Linked DNA regions of Homo sapiens: region 2 is linked to region 1. A link means that fine-mapping ties the variant in region 1 to the expression of a gene that starts in the linked region. Tissue or cell type: testis. Region 1 holds a variant in brackets; the other region holds the start of a gene. All regions are shown on one strand. Distances are between the middles of the regions.

Evidence for each region. PIP is the estimated chance that this variant, and not a neighbour inherited with it, causes the effect.
Region 2: LINC02806 starts here. The variant in region 1 is fine-mapped to the expression of LINC02806 in testis (GTEx, PIP 0.91).

Annotation. Positions count from the first base shown.
Region 1 is chr1:148,230,285-148,238,388 of GRCh38, reverse strand. The region is part of intron 1 of LOC101927468 (a long non-coding RNA gene); the gene reads left to right. Among named protein-coding and RNA genes, the nearest start is that of TRQ-CTG4-1, 31 kb to the left of the region's middle. RefSeq lists an enhancer at 1-438. The variant TTCG/G (reference allele first, on the strand shown) is at 3,973.
Region 2 is chr1:148,274,977-148,283,080 of GRCh38, reverse strand. LINC02806 (long intergenic non-protein coding RNA 2806) reads right to left here and starts at 3,813. Exons shown (of 2, transcript NR_187239.1): 1 at 3,550-3,813. LINC01731 (long intergenic non-protein coding RNA 1731) reads left to right here and starts at 1,858. Exons shown (of 5, transcript NR_183739.1): 1 at 1,858-2,043; 2 at 7,707-7,843; 3 at 8,104. It overlaps TRH-GTG1-3 (tRNA-His (anticodon GTG) 1-3), which reads right to left and starts at 1,716; the gene lies at 1,645-1,716.

The sequences.
Region 1 (8,104 bases):
AAGTGAGAGGAGCAGGGCTAAAGCCTCTCAATGCTGTTTGTCCATCTGGCTTTGGTCTTCCTAAGTGTTGATATCAAGTGGAGGCTGAAGGACTGTGGCTTCTCTAACCAAAATTGTGGGTTAACAATTGTCAAGAGCAGTCAGTGGTTCTGAAATACAATCCTCAGCCATGGATCCCTCCTGTGTTGTGTTGAGCTTTCAATTGCTTTGCTCTTTTAGTTTTTTTCATCAAACGAAAATGCTTTTTGTGATATCCTTTCTTTCTTTTCATTGTTCCAGCAGCATTTAGTATCTGTAGGAGACAGAGAAGGAAAGATCAAATGGGCATCTTTGTCAGGTCCTGCTGATGGCTGAGTCTAGAGGGACTGCTAAGTGGTGATAGCCCAGGGGCAAACTGAGCTCCTGCTAGGAGGATGAGCTGAAGGCTGAGCCGAAGGCTGAGTGAAGAGGCAAGTGCCATCCACAAGTGAAAAGTAAATGCCCCTGAACTTCCAGTCAGCTGAGGTGAAGGATATAGGGACCCTAGCTCTGCCCAACCAGCAGCCAGTGACATCAGCCCCTTTCCTCCTGATTCCTTCTGTCTGGAGCAGAGTGATGGCTTTTCACACCCCTCAGTGAGGATGTTCTCAGCATCAACCATGAAAGCTCAGAAACAGAGGGCTGCAGAAGGAAAGGACCTTTTACAGAGAAACCCACTCCCTTACAGCTCCATGTCCCCGTCTCTTAGGGAAGGGTGTGCAGGGCCATGGGAAGAACCCTGGAGGTGAGATACAGGAAGGACCTCAGACCACATCCACATCCAGTTCTGCCTTTTACAACAGAGGAGCAGTGATGCCACAGGGCTGACTTAACTAAAGCCACGTGACTTGCTATTGACAACCCTGAAACTAGAACCCACGCACGAAGTCCCTTTCAATAAGTTGGAGAGAAGAGAGAGTCAATTCTCCAATCTGGAGTTCTTGACAGTCACTAGAGGTTGCTGGGTCACCTTGGCTAGGATAGGAATGAGCTTTTACAAAGAAATATGATGTCACTGCTACTTGTTTTGTCGGTAAAATTAAAAATGAGAAAAGACAAAAGAAATATTATGTGTTCTTCCAAAAAGGATCAGAAAAAAAGGAAAAGGAAAGAGTCAAATGGAATTACAAAGGAAGGGTGGTGATTGTAACCATGGCCCAACTTATTATCCCTAATTCCCTGAAGTTGATTCCATACCTGGTTACACCTTAAGGCATTTCTAGAAATATTCTCAATATCTGATCGACAAAACTCTGAAGTAGAAAGTGAAAAGGATTAGTTTGTGTTTTATTACATTCTCCTCTCCCTGTTATATTTTTCCCAAAGTGGTTTGTTGGGAAAGATTTCTTTTTAGTATTTTATGCCAGCGTCAAGGGTAGCATAAAAAAGTATTCATATATCATCTCTTCCTGAGTTTCAGTTTTATTATTATTATTATTATTATTTCTTTTTTTTTTTAGATAGAGTCTTGCTCTGTCACCCAGGCTGGAGTGTAGTGGTGCGATCTCAGCTCACTGTAACCTCTGTCTTCCAGGCTCAAGCGATTCTCCTGCCTCAGCTTCCCAAGTAGCTGGGATTACAGGCACGTGCCATCACGCCCGGCTAATTTTTGTATTTTTAGTGGAGACAGGGTTTCGCCATGTTGGTCAGACTGGTCTCGAACTCCTGACCTCAGATGATCCACCCTCCTTGGCCTCCCAAAGTGTTGGAATTAAGAGGCATGAGCCACCATGCCCGGCCGAGTTTCAGTTTTTACTTATTATTATATTCTCTCTAGTTGAGTGAGAACTACGAGTTCTCTTTGAGGATTTGGCTGAATGAAAAGAATTGAGCAAAGCAGAATTTTTACACTGCAGTGCTGAACCCATTCATGGGCTCTGGAATCAGTGTGTGGAAATGTAAACTGCAGGATTTATTTTAAAATTGAAAAGAAAGCTGGGCATGACGGCTCATGCCTAAATCCCAGATCTTTGGGAAGCCAAGGTGGATGGATCACTTGAGGCCAGGAGTTTGAAATCAGCCTTCCCAACATGGTGAAACCATGCCTCTACTAAAAAAATACAAAAATTAGCCAAGTGTGGTGGCATGCACCTGTAATCCCAGCTACTCAGGAGGCTGAGGCATGAGAATTGTTGAAGCAGCGAGACGGAGGTTGCAGTGAGCCGAGACTGCGCCACTGCACTCCAGCCTGGGTGACAGAGAGAGACTCTGTCTTAAAAATAAAATAAAATAAAACAAAACATAAAATACAATAAAATAAAATTGAACAGAAAATGCTAAATTTGAATATGTGTAATATACGAGGTATTGTTTTCTGTATACTGGGTTTCAATATAATGACTATTTCTTATTTTACTTGTATTTAAAATTAAGCAAGTGTGCTTTAAGTAGAGAGACTATAGGTCTAATCCACCTATTTTCTTGTTTTTCTTTTTTATTTTTTTCTACATTCTACAAATACTACTGTTGAGAGGTGAATACAGATCCCATCAATGTCTGATGGATGCTCAGCCTTTTGTGTGGAGTAGCCACACAAGTGGTCATCTCCATGTTGAAAACCTGAGGTCAGAGTAGACCAGTGGTCCTTGTCATCTTCGGTTGTATATTAGAATATCATGGAAGTTTTTTAAAGGTACTGATGCTCACATCACACCCCAGACCATTTAAGTGAGAATCTCAAGATGTCAGTTCAAGGCATTCATGTTTATTGAAATCTCACCAGGTGCTTATTACATGGTAGCAGGATTTAGAGACAATGAATGAACCAACCTGATTTCCCATCATTTTCTTTCCTATCCTCATTTCTCTCATGATTGCCTTCATTCTCTGTGGCTCTATGGATTTTAGTCTTTCTTCTGACAATTTCGGTTAAATCTCTCACTTGGGCTGGTCTGAGGCAAAGTCTGTCCTGTAGATAGGTTCTTGTCTATCATCTTATGTAGACATAAAGCTGACCCCTGGACTCACTTTTCTCAAAGTTAATTCATTAAATGCTCTCGTATTTCTCTGTCCTCAAGATTCACCTGAGTTGTGTTTTAGATTCTAACTGAGCTTGTAGAAGTAGATATGTGAATAAAAAGGAGAGAGGTGAGAATGTACCTCGTGGTCTATGCAGGTTCAAAGTCCTGCCCTGCCCTCTGCATCTACCTTCGGCTGAGGTTCCTTTGGAATGTCATAAATGTTCTCCAGTTAATGTCAGCTAAGTGACTCCATGAGGAGCAGGCACAGTCCCTGGAAACTTCATCCACGTTGGCATAAGGTTGCCCATCTGGAGCTGAAGACACACCTGACTCCAGGCTAGTAGGGAACTCTCTTCTGTGACCCAGGTTCTAATTTAGTTTTTGATTTGGGGTTCTTAGTGCTCATTTTTAACACTTCTCATTCCCATGTACAAGGTGAGGGTTAAAGTTTGACTTAGTTGGGTTGCTCAAAAGCTGTCCCAAGAGAAAAATCTGTGTATAAATGACGTATTAAAGCAATGCTCCCAGCAGAAAGGGGCAATGGAGTTTGGGATGCAGGAAGGAAAGGCAAATTACTCAAGCCGTGCAATTCCAGGCAAAGAACTCTGTGTTTAGCAGCTCACACCATGCACTTGGAGGGAGACAAGGAGGCTGGGCTCTCCTGCAGCTGTGAGAAGGACTCTCAGGACAGCAGCAGTGGGAACAGAGCAGAGTTCAGAGAGCAAACAGGTGATGAGGACCAGAAGGGCCTGGCAGGGTGGCAGCCCATGGGACACAGAGGTTAGACCAGACAGACATGACAGCAGCTGCTGGAGAGAACAAATACAGAAGAAAAAAGCAGTGGGAGAAGGAGCTGTCATCACAGACAGAGAGAAATAAGGAGTGAGTGCAGCTAAGAGCCATAGATGTGATTACCTTCGTACTCTAAGCTTGCAGGCCAGGGAATCTGCAGGCCAGTCTCCACTTGCTGAATGGGAGCTTTCTTTTGGTCATC[TTCG/G]GTTTTAGGACACTTGAGGCATGAATGTGGCCAGTGACTTGATGCCCATGTGTGTTGTCAGCTGAGCCTTCAATAGCATCACCTTCCAGCTGGTGAGGGTTCTTCATTCCAAGGGAAGTCTCTAAACCCAGCTCTGAAAATGAAACCACACCCAACAGCATTCACTGTCATCCATGATCTTACTGTGACTTTCTCTTCCACCCAAGAGGATCATCAGAGAAGGAAAGCGGCCTTGAACAAGAAAATCCAAGGGGTAAAGGGAAGCCAAGAAAGACATTTGGGTACTTTCTGTATTGTTGATTTTTCATGCATCACCCAGTAATGACAAGATTGCCAGGAGGAAAAGGTGATCCCAACTGGCAAACATATTCAAAAAATTTAGGATTAATAAACCCAAATAGCTTCCAAGTAGATAAGGCAAAGGCAAGGAAATCACACTGGATACAGGCTGTGTTTTGGGAGGGAGGAGATTCTAAAAATCAAGCAAAATCAACGTTAAATGAACATATGAGAGAAAAGAATTGGGAAGACTAAACATGGGATATTGATGAAATGATCATACAGATAGGTACATTGCATATATCTACATTTTATTAAAAATACATGCAAATATGCATAACGTATATAACAGTGACATAAATGCATATATTTATATATAAAAATCTATTGGAAGAAATTATTACATAGGGATGTGGAAGGTGTTGAATTAACATTATAATCACTAACATTACAATCTAGCCCATTGAAATTGGAAAAAATTTTGGAAAAATAAGACTATTGAGAGAGAGAAGACATGGTGAGAAACAAATGCCCTAGTAGACAGCAGGGAGAAGTCACTAGAGAATGAAACAAAAGGCATTCATTCTTTCCTCCTGCCTGGAGCCTGGTTAGTGCTCTGGACTCCTGGGAAAGCCAGCAGGTGAGAGCGTTGGAGCCAGGTGGGTGAGTCCTGACTGGGGATGTGGGAATCCATGGAGAAGCAAAAGAGACATCAGTGGGAAGAAATCAGTTTAAATACTCGAAGTTATCAGGGCACGTGTCAGGGACTACGCATCCCCCGACACTCACTGAGCGTCTTCCATGTGTCCTCTCCACGGACCCAGAAAGTGCTCGTTACCTCAAGTGACCCTCCTTCCTCCTGAGGACATGGGTCCCTTATTCCTCAGCTGGGGGCATCGCCTGACAGATAAGCACCTGGCAGCCCCAGGGGCTCCAGGAGGAGATATTGAGTGGGACAGAGAGTAAGAATGAACACGACCCAGTAGAGATGGGGTTTCACCATGTTGGCCAGGTTGGTCTTGAACACCTGACCTCAAGTGATCTGCCTGCCTTGGCCTCCCACTGTGCCCAGCTGCAGCTAATTTTTTGTATTTTTAGTAGAGACAGGGTTTCCCTGTGTTGGCCATGATGGTCTTGAACTCCTGGCCTCAAGTGATCTGCTCACCTGGGCCTCCCAGAGTGCTGGGATTACAGGCGTGAGCCACCACACCTGGCCAAGAAACAACCATCTTATTTTGTGCTTTTGTTTGGTCCACCAGATCTATGTTTCTTTTTCTCACCTTTCTTGCCTTTCTTTTGAAATGATTATTTTTTCTTACCATCTATTTTTTTCCTTTTCTGTTGATATGAAAATAATGTACTCTTTTTCTATTCTTTGAGCAGTGGCTCTCTGGCTCTAGAAATCACACAATAGTCACCCTTTCCTTAGCAAAGTCTTTTTTTTCTTTTTAATTTAAAGACAGGGTCTCACTTTGTGGCCCAGACTGGGGTGCAGTGATGCAGTCACAGCTCACTACATCCTCAACTTCCCCAGCTTAAACGATCCTCCTACCTCAGCCTCCCCAGTAGCTGCGACTACAGGCACATACCACCACACCTGGCTAGTTTTGTTTGTTTATTTTTTGTAGCAACGAGGTCTCGCTATATTGCCCAGGCTGGTCTCAGACTTCTAGGCTCAAGCAATCCTCCTGAACCCTGGCCTCCCAAAGTGCTGGGTTTACAGGTGTGAGCTACCATGCCTGGCCTAAAGTCTAATGTTAATCAGTACATTTACTGTCCTTCTGGAATGAGTATAAGGACCTTAGAATAATTTTTTTTTTTTTTTTTTTTTTTTTGTGATGGAGATTTGCTCTTATCCCCCAGGCTGGAGTGCAATGGTGCTATCTCGGCTCATGGCAACCTCCACCTACTAGGTTCAAGCGATTCTCCTGCCTCAGCTTCCCGAGTAGCTGGGATTACAGGTGTGCACCACCACACCCAGCTAATTTTTGTATTTTTAGTAGAGATGGGGGTGAGGTGGGTGGATTACCTGAAGTCAAGAGGTCAGGACCTTAGAATAATTTAACAAAACTTCCCTTTCTCCCTAGTTTCTAGCTGGCAACATGGAGTTGCTATACATTTTAATTCTGTATATTTTAACACTCTGTAAGACATGCATATTACAGCTTTTAAGGTCAATATTTATGTTTACCCATATATTTACCATTTTTAAAATTCTTAATCCTTTCTGTGTCTCTGACCCTTTAGCCTAAGTCAGTTGGTTGTGAATTCTCTCAATTCTTGTTTGTCTGAAAATGCCTGTATTTTACTTTCATGGTTGAAGAATATTTTGCTGGCTATAAAGTTCTATAATAGTTTTTATTTTCTATAAGAACATGGAGAATATATTCCCATTTTTCCTTTGGTTTTTATTTTTGTGCTTTAGAAACTTAAATTAAAATTTTTTTTTCTGGACGCTATAAAGATTTTTTCACTTTTTCTTTTGTTTTCTGCAATATCTCAGGGTGAATCTTGGTGTAGATTTCTTTTTTCTTTATCCTGCATGGAATTCTTAAGTTCTATGAGTCAGTCCTCCAAAATTCTCAGTCATTTAACCATAAAAATTTAAATATTGCCTTTGCTCCATTTCTCTCTCTTGTAAAACTGCAATTAAATATATGTTAGACTTTTTCAAGATGTCCTCCCTCTCTCTTATCCTCTCTGCTATATTTTCTGTTTTTGTCTCTTTGTGCTGTAATATGGAAAGTTTATTCTGACTTATTTTTCTGTTCAATAATTCTTTCTTCAGCTATGTCTAATATGCCCTTAAACTCACTCAATTAATTCATAATTTGTCATTATATTTCCCCTTTTCAAAATTATGTCACTTTTCCCCCTCAGTGTCTTTCTGAAATTTTGAAGCTTTTCTTTTCTTTCTTTCTTTTCCTTTTTTTTTTTCTTTTTTAAGGCTTGGTAGGCATAGTTGTTTTATAGTTGGTATCTAATAATCCCAATATATGACAAACAGTCTTTGTTGGTCTGTTTCTACTATCTTCTTGTTTTAACTGGTTCTTGCTCATGGTACCTTGTTTCCTATGCATTTTGTTTTCTTTGTGTGCTATTCAATGTATTTTAGGAATACTTTGAGACATAAGATGATAGTGCCTCTTACAAGAGAGTATTTTAATTTGTTTCTGCCATGATTCTAGAGATGCTACTAATGCAGGACTATCTTAATCTAAGTTCGAGGCTTCAGGTTCCCTAAAAGAGCCAAATGATGAGAAGCTAGGCTGCAAGTCTTTTGAAGGACTGGTTTAATTCTGGTTTACCCTTACCCTGAAGTGATAACCTTGCTAGGTTCTACCTTACAGTGGCAGGTGGTTTATCTGAGTCTTAAGCTAAGGTGGACCCTGAGCTTTAAGTCTTGTTTCCTCTGCCCTGAAAGACCCCCACCTGCCCTAAGCAAATGCAGTTTCACAGTTATTTCTTCGAGATAAGCAAATCTCATTAGGGCCAAACAGATTTTAATATAGGGGCTTCATTTTTTCTAGCTTTTGACTGGGCAGTTTCTTATTCGATTAACTATTTGGTGCTTTTGGAAGGTGTGGGTTTTCAAAAAATATATTTCCCAATTTCATTTTACTTTTTCTCAGCAGAGGGGTTACTCTGAGATAACTAGTCTACCACTATAGGAAATAATATATATCTATTTTTGTATTTCAGTCTTTAGCACAGTTTTGGTCATTCAATCTTTGTTAAAGAATGATGATATGTGTGGCCATGGGCATTGGAATCAAGTTGTAGAAGCTATGGTTTCTTTCTTCAAGGAACTTATCATTTAATAAGTGAAGAAAAAAATCACAAATAAAAC
Region 2 (8,104 bases), 45 kb before region 1:
AATGTAGCAGAATACATTTCTGCCTTAAGAGATAACAGGAAAAAATAAAGCAAAGTAGAATTTCACCAAAGTTATCAACTTCTGCTCATCAAGAATCACCATGAGAAAGTGAGAAGGTGAGCCACAGACTGGGAGAAGATAATTGCACTGTGTTTACCTGAAAAAAAAAGGCTCAAATTTTGAATATAGAGAGTACTTTTTACAAATCAGTAATAAAAAGCAAAGCCAATTGAATTAGGGAAAATGCTTCAAAGCCTGTCTTCTCAAAGAAGGATTGCTAAACGGTGAAAAGGCATTAGAAAATATGCTCAACAGCATTACTCATTAAAGGAAACACAAATTGAAGCCACGATGTGGTACCGTTTTACATCCACCAGAACAGGTGTATTTAAAAAACAGTAAACACCACGCGCTGTCAAGGATGTCCAGCCAGTGGAACTCTCCTTGCTGGTGAGAAAGCATTCTGGAAGAAACCATTTGGCCGTTTCTAATAAAGTTAATATTACACCTACCCTATGATCCAACAATTCCAGTACTTGGTATTCCTCAAGGGAAATGAATGCACGTGTCCACAAAAAGACCTATACAAGAAGAATTTTCGTTCATCTTGTCCAGCAAGTGGCATCGGTTTCCTATCAGCAGGAGTCTGAACACTTCTGGCCCTAGCCTCTTGGTATCAGAGTCGCCAAGGAAATACAAGGCAGTCAGAGACTGGACGGGAGAACAACACATTATTCATACAGAGAGGAGACAGAGCGGGGTGTGGGCTCCGCTTCAGTCTTGGGCGTTGGTCCCCCATGGCCAGCAGGTCCCTCCATTTGGCCTGCACACACAGCCTCTTGAGAAGCAGAAGAAAGGACCCCCGCTTCCTCCCCTCAGTGGGGGGCAGATACAGCAGCTGGCCAGGTGCCAGTTGATGCACATGCTTAAGTGGAACAAAGGGGTACACACCAAGTCTGATCGGGGGAAAGATACTCCCACACAAGGAGGTGAGTCCAGCACAGGCTGTGATGACTCCTTATCTCTCAGGAAGGAAGTGCTCCAGGCCCAAGGCCCATTCCTACGTGGCAGAGTGGAGGTGGAAAGACCCCCGGCACCAGATTGCCTTTCCTCACACTTTGCTGTTGGCATACAAACTTGGTGACGGGCACAGAGACAAGCCATTGTAGGCCACAACAAAGAGTTTGGAGTTTAAAGTCATTAAAAGCTTCTTGTCGTTTCGTGTGTAACAGCCCCAGTGACTGGAAAACAGGTTCTGAGCACACCATTGCCTTCGTGTAAGCCACCACCAACAGGGCTGACTGGGTTATTTGCTCTGTGAGGCTCAGAGACAGGACGGTGCACGTCCAGAGTTTCCCTTGGACTCCTCCCCAGGTTAGTGAGCTGTGAGGTCTCTTTTCCTTACCCCGACGTGCCCCCAGTGACCGGAAGAACGGTTCTGAGCACACCATTGCCTTCGTGTAAGCCACCAACAGGGCCGACTGGGTTATTTGCTGCGTGAGGCTCAGAAACAGGAGGGAGCACGTCCAGGGTTTCCCTTGGATTCCTCGCCAAGTTAGTAAGGTGTGAGGTCTCTTTTCCTTCCCCTGACGCGCCTGGTTGCGGGAGCAAAAGGGAAGAGCTGACAGCCTAGACTAACGACATTGCCGTGACTCGGATTCGAACCGAGGTTGCTGCGGCCACAACGCAGAGTACTAACCACTATACGATCACGGCGAGCCACAGGCTAAACCGCGATGGCGGAGCTTGCTCTAGCCCTTTTGACGTCAATGGATTTCGATTATTAGGCGGATTCGTTCCCAGACAGCCACAGGGGACTCGCGCTTTTCTTTCATGCCCGCTCTGCTTTTCCCTCCCTTCCTCCCAATCTTCATACGTGATGAGAACAATTCTCATCTCCTCCACTCCAGCCTGGGCCTCCCTGCACCAGCCTCTCTCGGGAGGTCTCTCTGTCCTGGTCCGCACCTCCTCTGCTTCTGTGGGGCCTCTCCGTATTTCTGCTTTTCACCCCTCCTCTCTCCCGCCCCACCGACCGAGGCCGAGGTGAGCGAGGGGAGCGCAAGCAGCAGTAGAGAATCGGGTGAAGGCGGAGCCAAGAAGGGGAAGAGCCATCACTAGAGCCCACGGGGCGTTCTGCTTGCTTCCCCTGGGACCCACGCGGCTCAGGCCCAGGGAGTCGCGGACCCGGGCGTTTCCTGGGATGCTGGGTCTGACGCCTGCGAGGGTCAGGACGGGGCGAAGGCCATTCCGCTGCCCTTCCAGCTTCGGAATCACCCAATGCACGGGTTTCAACCGTAGCCAGCAAGATGCGCCTCTCAGGTTTTCCGAGGCTTTAGAGCCTGCACAGTTGTTCTAAAAAAGGCGGTGGCTCCTCCTAACGTTGGATGGGCTCTTGCTCTGCATGGTGATACCAGAGTGAGAGTCGTCTGTCTGTGTGTCTCAGTTGGGTGGTGTGCTTGTTTCCAAGCCCGAAGGTGGGTGGTTCGAGCCTGTTCTATGGAGCATTTCTTGCATTTTAAAAATGCTTAAACCGCTGGCAACTTTCTTCTATCCAGCACATGGTATCATGGAAAGGCAGAGGGAGACTAACTTTACCCTCCTCTCCTCCGTCTGTCGCGCAGGACGTGAGGACGTAAATCAAGGTCCGCTAGGATTCTGGGAACCCTCTCTCTCTCTTTTTTTTTTTTTTTTTTTTGAGATGGAGTCTCGCTCTGTGGCCAGGCTGGAGTGCAGTGGCAAGATATCTCGCCTCACTGCAACCTCCGACTCTCTGGTTCAAGCAATTCTCCTGCCTCAGCCCCCTGAGTAGCTGGGATTATAGGCACGCGCCACCACACCCAGCTAATTTTTGTATTTTTAGTAGAGACGGGGTTTCACCATGTTGGCCAGGGTGGTCTCAATCTCCTGACCTTGTGACCCGCCCGCCTCAGCCTCCCAAAGTGCTGGATTACAGGAGTGAGCCACCGCGCCGCTCTCTCTCTCTCTCTCTCTCTCTCTCTCTCTCTCTCTCTCTCTCTCTCTCTCTCTCTCTCTCTCTCTCTCTCCCTCTCCCTCTCTCTCTCTCTCTCTCTCTTTAACTGTCATTCATTTAGCCCTTTCCATATGCTTTTGAGGTTAAATTGGTTCTGTGATTTTTTTATAATTACATATAATGCTCTAGTCATTCTTGTACGGGCATTTTCAGCCACTGGTCTAAATATTTCTTTAGGCTAGAGGTGCAATTACTATAGGAAGAACAATTACTCTATCATACTGTTCATAAAGTTTTTATATCATTCTATTCTCTCTCTTCTGTTGGCTTATTAGCTATAACTCTTTCTTTTGTTATTTTAGTAATTCCCTTAGGGCTTATAGCAAACCTTTTTAACTTATCACAGTCAACTTTCAAGTGATATTATATCTCACCTTCTGGCCTTGACGCTATAGCTGACATGCACTTTGCTTTTACGCATGTTATAAACACCACAACCCATTGTTATTGCTTTTGTTTAAATGGTCAAATTTTTACAAAAGAAATTTACAAAATAAAAAAATACCTAGTATAGTTACCCATTTCTGGTGTTCTTCATTTCCTCGTGGAGATCTGGATTTTCATCTGGTATTGGATTCCTTCTGCTTGGAGGACTCATTTGATGTTTCTTGTAGTGTGGGTTGACTGGTAGTGAATTCGGTCAGCTTTTGTACATCTCTAAATGTCCTTATTTCACTTCCACTTTTGGGAATTTATTTTTTCTGGCATAGTATTCTACATTAACTTCTCCTGCCCTCAGTACCTTAAAGATGTTGCTTCTCTGTCTGCTCGTGTGCATTGCTGCTCCTGGTAGAGGCCGGCAAGAGCAGAAAGGAAGCTGATGCAATCCTCATTTTTGCTCCTGTGTATGTACAATGTCTTTTTCTTCTGGCCAGATTTGAGCAATGTTATTATGATGTATCTAGGAGTGGTTTTATTCATGTTTCTTGCGCTTTGGTTTCCTCAGCTCCTTGGGTCACTGGATTTATAATTTTTGTTATGATTGGGAACTTTCCAGCTATTTTTCTTCAGAAATTGGCTGGGCACAGTGGCTCACACCTTTGGGAGGCCAAGTCGGGAGGTGTTGAGTGAGGCCTGAAATTCAAGACCAGCCTGGGCAACATACTGAGACCCCATTCCTAAGAAAAATAACAAAGAAAGAAAATAAATGTTTCCTTTCCTCCCTGCTCCTTCTCAGGGACTCCCATTACTCAAAAATTAGACCTCTTAAGTCTGCCCTACAGTTCACTGATAATCTTTTCATTAAAAAAAATCTCTTTTGTCTGTGAGTTTCATTTTGCATATTTTCAATTATTCATGATTCCATGTTCCCTGATCATTTCTTCTGCAACATCTAATCTGCTGTTAATCCCATCCAGCGAATTTATCATCTCTGATATTGTGGTTTTGGTATGATATCGGCTCACTGCAACCTCCGCCTCCCAGGTTCCAGTGATTCTCCTGCTTCAGCCTCCCAAGCAGTTGGGACTACAGGCATGTGCCATGCCGCCCAGCTCATTTTTTGTATTTTGAGTAGAGATGGGGGTTTCACTGTGTTAGCCAGGATCATCTTCATCTCCTGACTTTGTGATCCACTGGACTCAGACTCCCAAAGTGCTGGGATTACAGTGGTAAATCACCGCACCTGGACCCACCATCCCTCCCTCCCTTCCTTCCTTCCTTGAGACAGGGTCTCACCCTGTAGCCCAAGCTGGACTTCAGTGGTGTAATCTTAGCTCACTGCAACCTCTGCCTCCCAGGCTCAAGCAATCCTCCCACTGCAACCTCCTGAGTAGCTGGGACTACAGGCACACCTATAGTCCTGGCTAATTCTTTGAATTTTTTTGGTAGAGATGAGTTTTCCTCATCTTGCCCAGTCTAGTCTGAAACTCCTGAGCTCAAGGGATCAGCCCACCTCGGCCTCCCAAACTGCTGGGATTACAGGCATCTGTTTGTTTACAGTATTGTATTCTCTTGCCAGCAACAAGAGTTACAGTTGCTCTGCATTTTTATAAGCCAGTGGCTTTCCCTGTCTCTTAAATGTTACCCATTCTGATGGGTGTGTTATGGAGTATCATGGCATTTTAAATTTGTGTTTCCTGAATGAGTAATAATGCCAAGAATCCTTTCTTATGCAATTTGGCCATTAAGAAATTCTCTTTGGTAAACAAACACCGTTCAAGTATTTTGCCCATTTTACATTGGCTTGACTCTTTTCTTCCTCCCCAAATTTATACACAAACTTTTCTATTTGAATAGAAAAGTTGAGAAGATAGTACACAGAATGGAGTAAAGAGGATGGAATGGGTTTTTGGAAACCAATTCAAACTTTAAAGTTGTTTTAATATCCTCCATCCTCAAAGAACAATGTATGTCTTCCAAAGACATCCCCTTATTGAAATATGCAGAGAAAGTGTGAGATAAAAGAGCATATACTAAACTCCTCAGAACGTGTTTCTGGAAGTGGACAGGGAAATGGGAGTGGGATAAACAGAGAAAAGAAGGAAAGACAGTAAGTGCCTTGCTCAGAGCTGCCACCATAATGTGCCCTGAGCTAAGGTACATGATTACCTTCTCCCTGTGCACCTGAGATCTAAGAAAATATATTAACTAATCAGGGACATGGAATTTCAAAAACACTACAGAAAAACAGAAAATTTACCCAGACAGACCAGTCTAGTTAAGAAAGGCAGGAAGAGATTTTATAAACAAAGCCAAAACACAGAAATCATACAATGAGGTGGTGGGAATGAGACTAACTGTGCCTGTCATCTCCAATGTAACACTAACTGCTGTGAATTATAATGGATTTAAGTCTCTCAGATTGGATAGAAAAGGAAATGCCAGCTCTAATGGTTTAATGGGCAGAAAAGGGTTAAATATTCAAAGCAGTGCACATTATATTATATATATATATATATATATATATATACGTATATATTGTATAGGAGGGAGATATACATATATATACATTTTTTTTTTTTGAGACGCAGTCTAGCTCTGTTACCAGGCTGGAGTGCAGTGGCATGATTTCAGCTCACTGCAACCTCCACCTCCTTGGTTCAAGTGATTCTTCTGCCTCAGCCTCTCGAGTACCTGGGACTACAGTCACGCGCCACTGTGCTCAGCTAATTTTTGTATTTTTAGTAGAGATGGGGGTTTCACCATATTGGCCAGGCTGATCTCGAACTCTTGACCTCATGATCCACACGCCTCAGCCTCCCAAATTGCTGAGATTACAGGTGTGAACGACGGTGCCAGGTCAAAAGCAGTACACATTATCTTTAGCAAGCTAACGCAGAAACAGGAAACCAAACACCGTGTGTTTTCACTTATAAATGGGAGCTGAATATGAGAATGCATGGATACATGGGGTTGGGGAGCAAGGACAACACACACTGGAGCCTATTGGAGGGTGGGGGTTGGGAGGAGGGAGAGCATCAGGAAGAGTAGCTAATGGATGCTGGGCTTAGTACCTGGGTGATGGGAAGATCGGTGCAGCAAACCACCATGGCACACGTTTACCTATAAGACAAACCTGCACATCCTGCACATGTACCCTGAACTTAAAAGAAAAGTTGGAAATAAAAAATGTAAAAAGGAAAGAAAACAAACAACAACAACAAAAAGAGCAGTGCAAATCTGTACCATGCTCATTATAAACAAAAGAATGAGAGTGAAAACATGAATATCCAACAAAAGCAAACAACAAAAGAACACTTTCTGTTAGCTAGAGGAGTAATATCCTAGCATCTACCTAGAATCAAATGGAACTGTTTTTCCCTGAACTGGCCTCCTTGGGTGGCCAACCAGGGTGAGGTGAAGGGAAGAAATCTGGGAGTGAAATGTCCATTTCTTCGCTCTTGCTTAGGTCTCTGTAAGGCATAAGAAGTTAAAAGCAAGATCCAATCCCAGGCCTTTTCCAGGAATTCAAAAGAGGTGTAGGAGGAGAGAAGTTCAATTATCACCCTGGTCTCCTGGAGTATCCCAGGCATAGTCCCAAGAGTTCAGCTTTCCAAACCAGGGTCCCTGTTCTCTGACAGCCTTTTTTGGAGAAAGTACTGATGTTCCTGTCAAGGTTGGGAGGAAAGGGTTTGAGAGGCACCAAGCAATGGGGAGGCAAAGAGAAGACATCAACAAGCGAGGCAAGAACTTTCCACAGGCTCACACTGGATACAGGACCAGAGACAAGAAACTGGGTGAATTTCTGATTTTTCCTACAGAGGTTTGTTATCAAGTTGCACAGAGCCTACTCAGAATAAGGCTTTTTCAAGTCAGCTCTTTTAATGTGAAGCCATAACTTTGTGGTGTTGCCTGATGCAAATCACCACTGCGAGCCTTTGCTCTGGGTGTCTTTTTTGTTAGTCACATCAAAGAGAACACAGCGAAAATCTTGACTCCTTTCCCCAAGTCTGTGTCTTAACTGTTTCCAAGGCTGCAGAGCTCAGGGTCAGGAGGCACTGGCAGTTCAGTGGTAGAAATTACACCTCCCACCCGGGAGACCTGGATTCCATTTCTGGCAAATGCAGGGTCCTGTCTTTGTGCCCTGTGGTTTTTACATTTACTTACTGTAATTGTGACCCTCAAAGAGGTCACAGCCACACTAATAAAGAAAAAAAAATGGAAGCTACTGTATAGTCCTCGGGTTCTTTCCCTAGCTGAATTTATCTTTCTTTTATTTATTTATTTTTGTTAGTTTGTTTGTTTGAGACAGAGTCTCGGTCTGTCACCCAGGCTGGAGTGCAATATGTGCAATCCTGGCTCACTGCAACTTCCACCTTCTGGGCTCAAGCGATTCTCCTGCCTCAGCCTCCCAAGTAGCTCTAATTACAGGTTTGTGCCACCATTTCCTGCTAATTTTCCTATTTTCAGTAGAGACGGGGTTTCACCATGTTGGCTAGGCTGATCTTGAACTCCTGACCTCACATAATCCACCAGCCTCTTACAGGGTGTACCCGGCCCTGGAGCGGAATTTATCTAAGCAGGGACTTTATAGAGACAGTCTATGAAGCAGCCAGTGGGTCTGGTTGGTCTCTGCGTTTCTGCATATTTGGCCCTAAAACTGGTGCTACTTTTATTGTCTCTGCTGTCAGA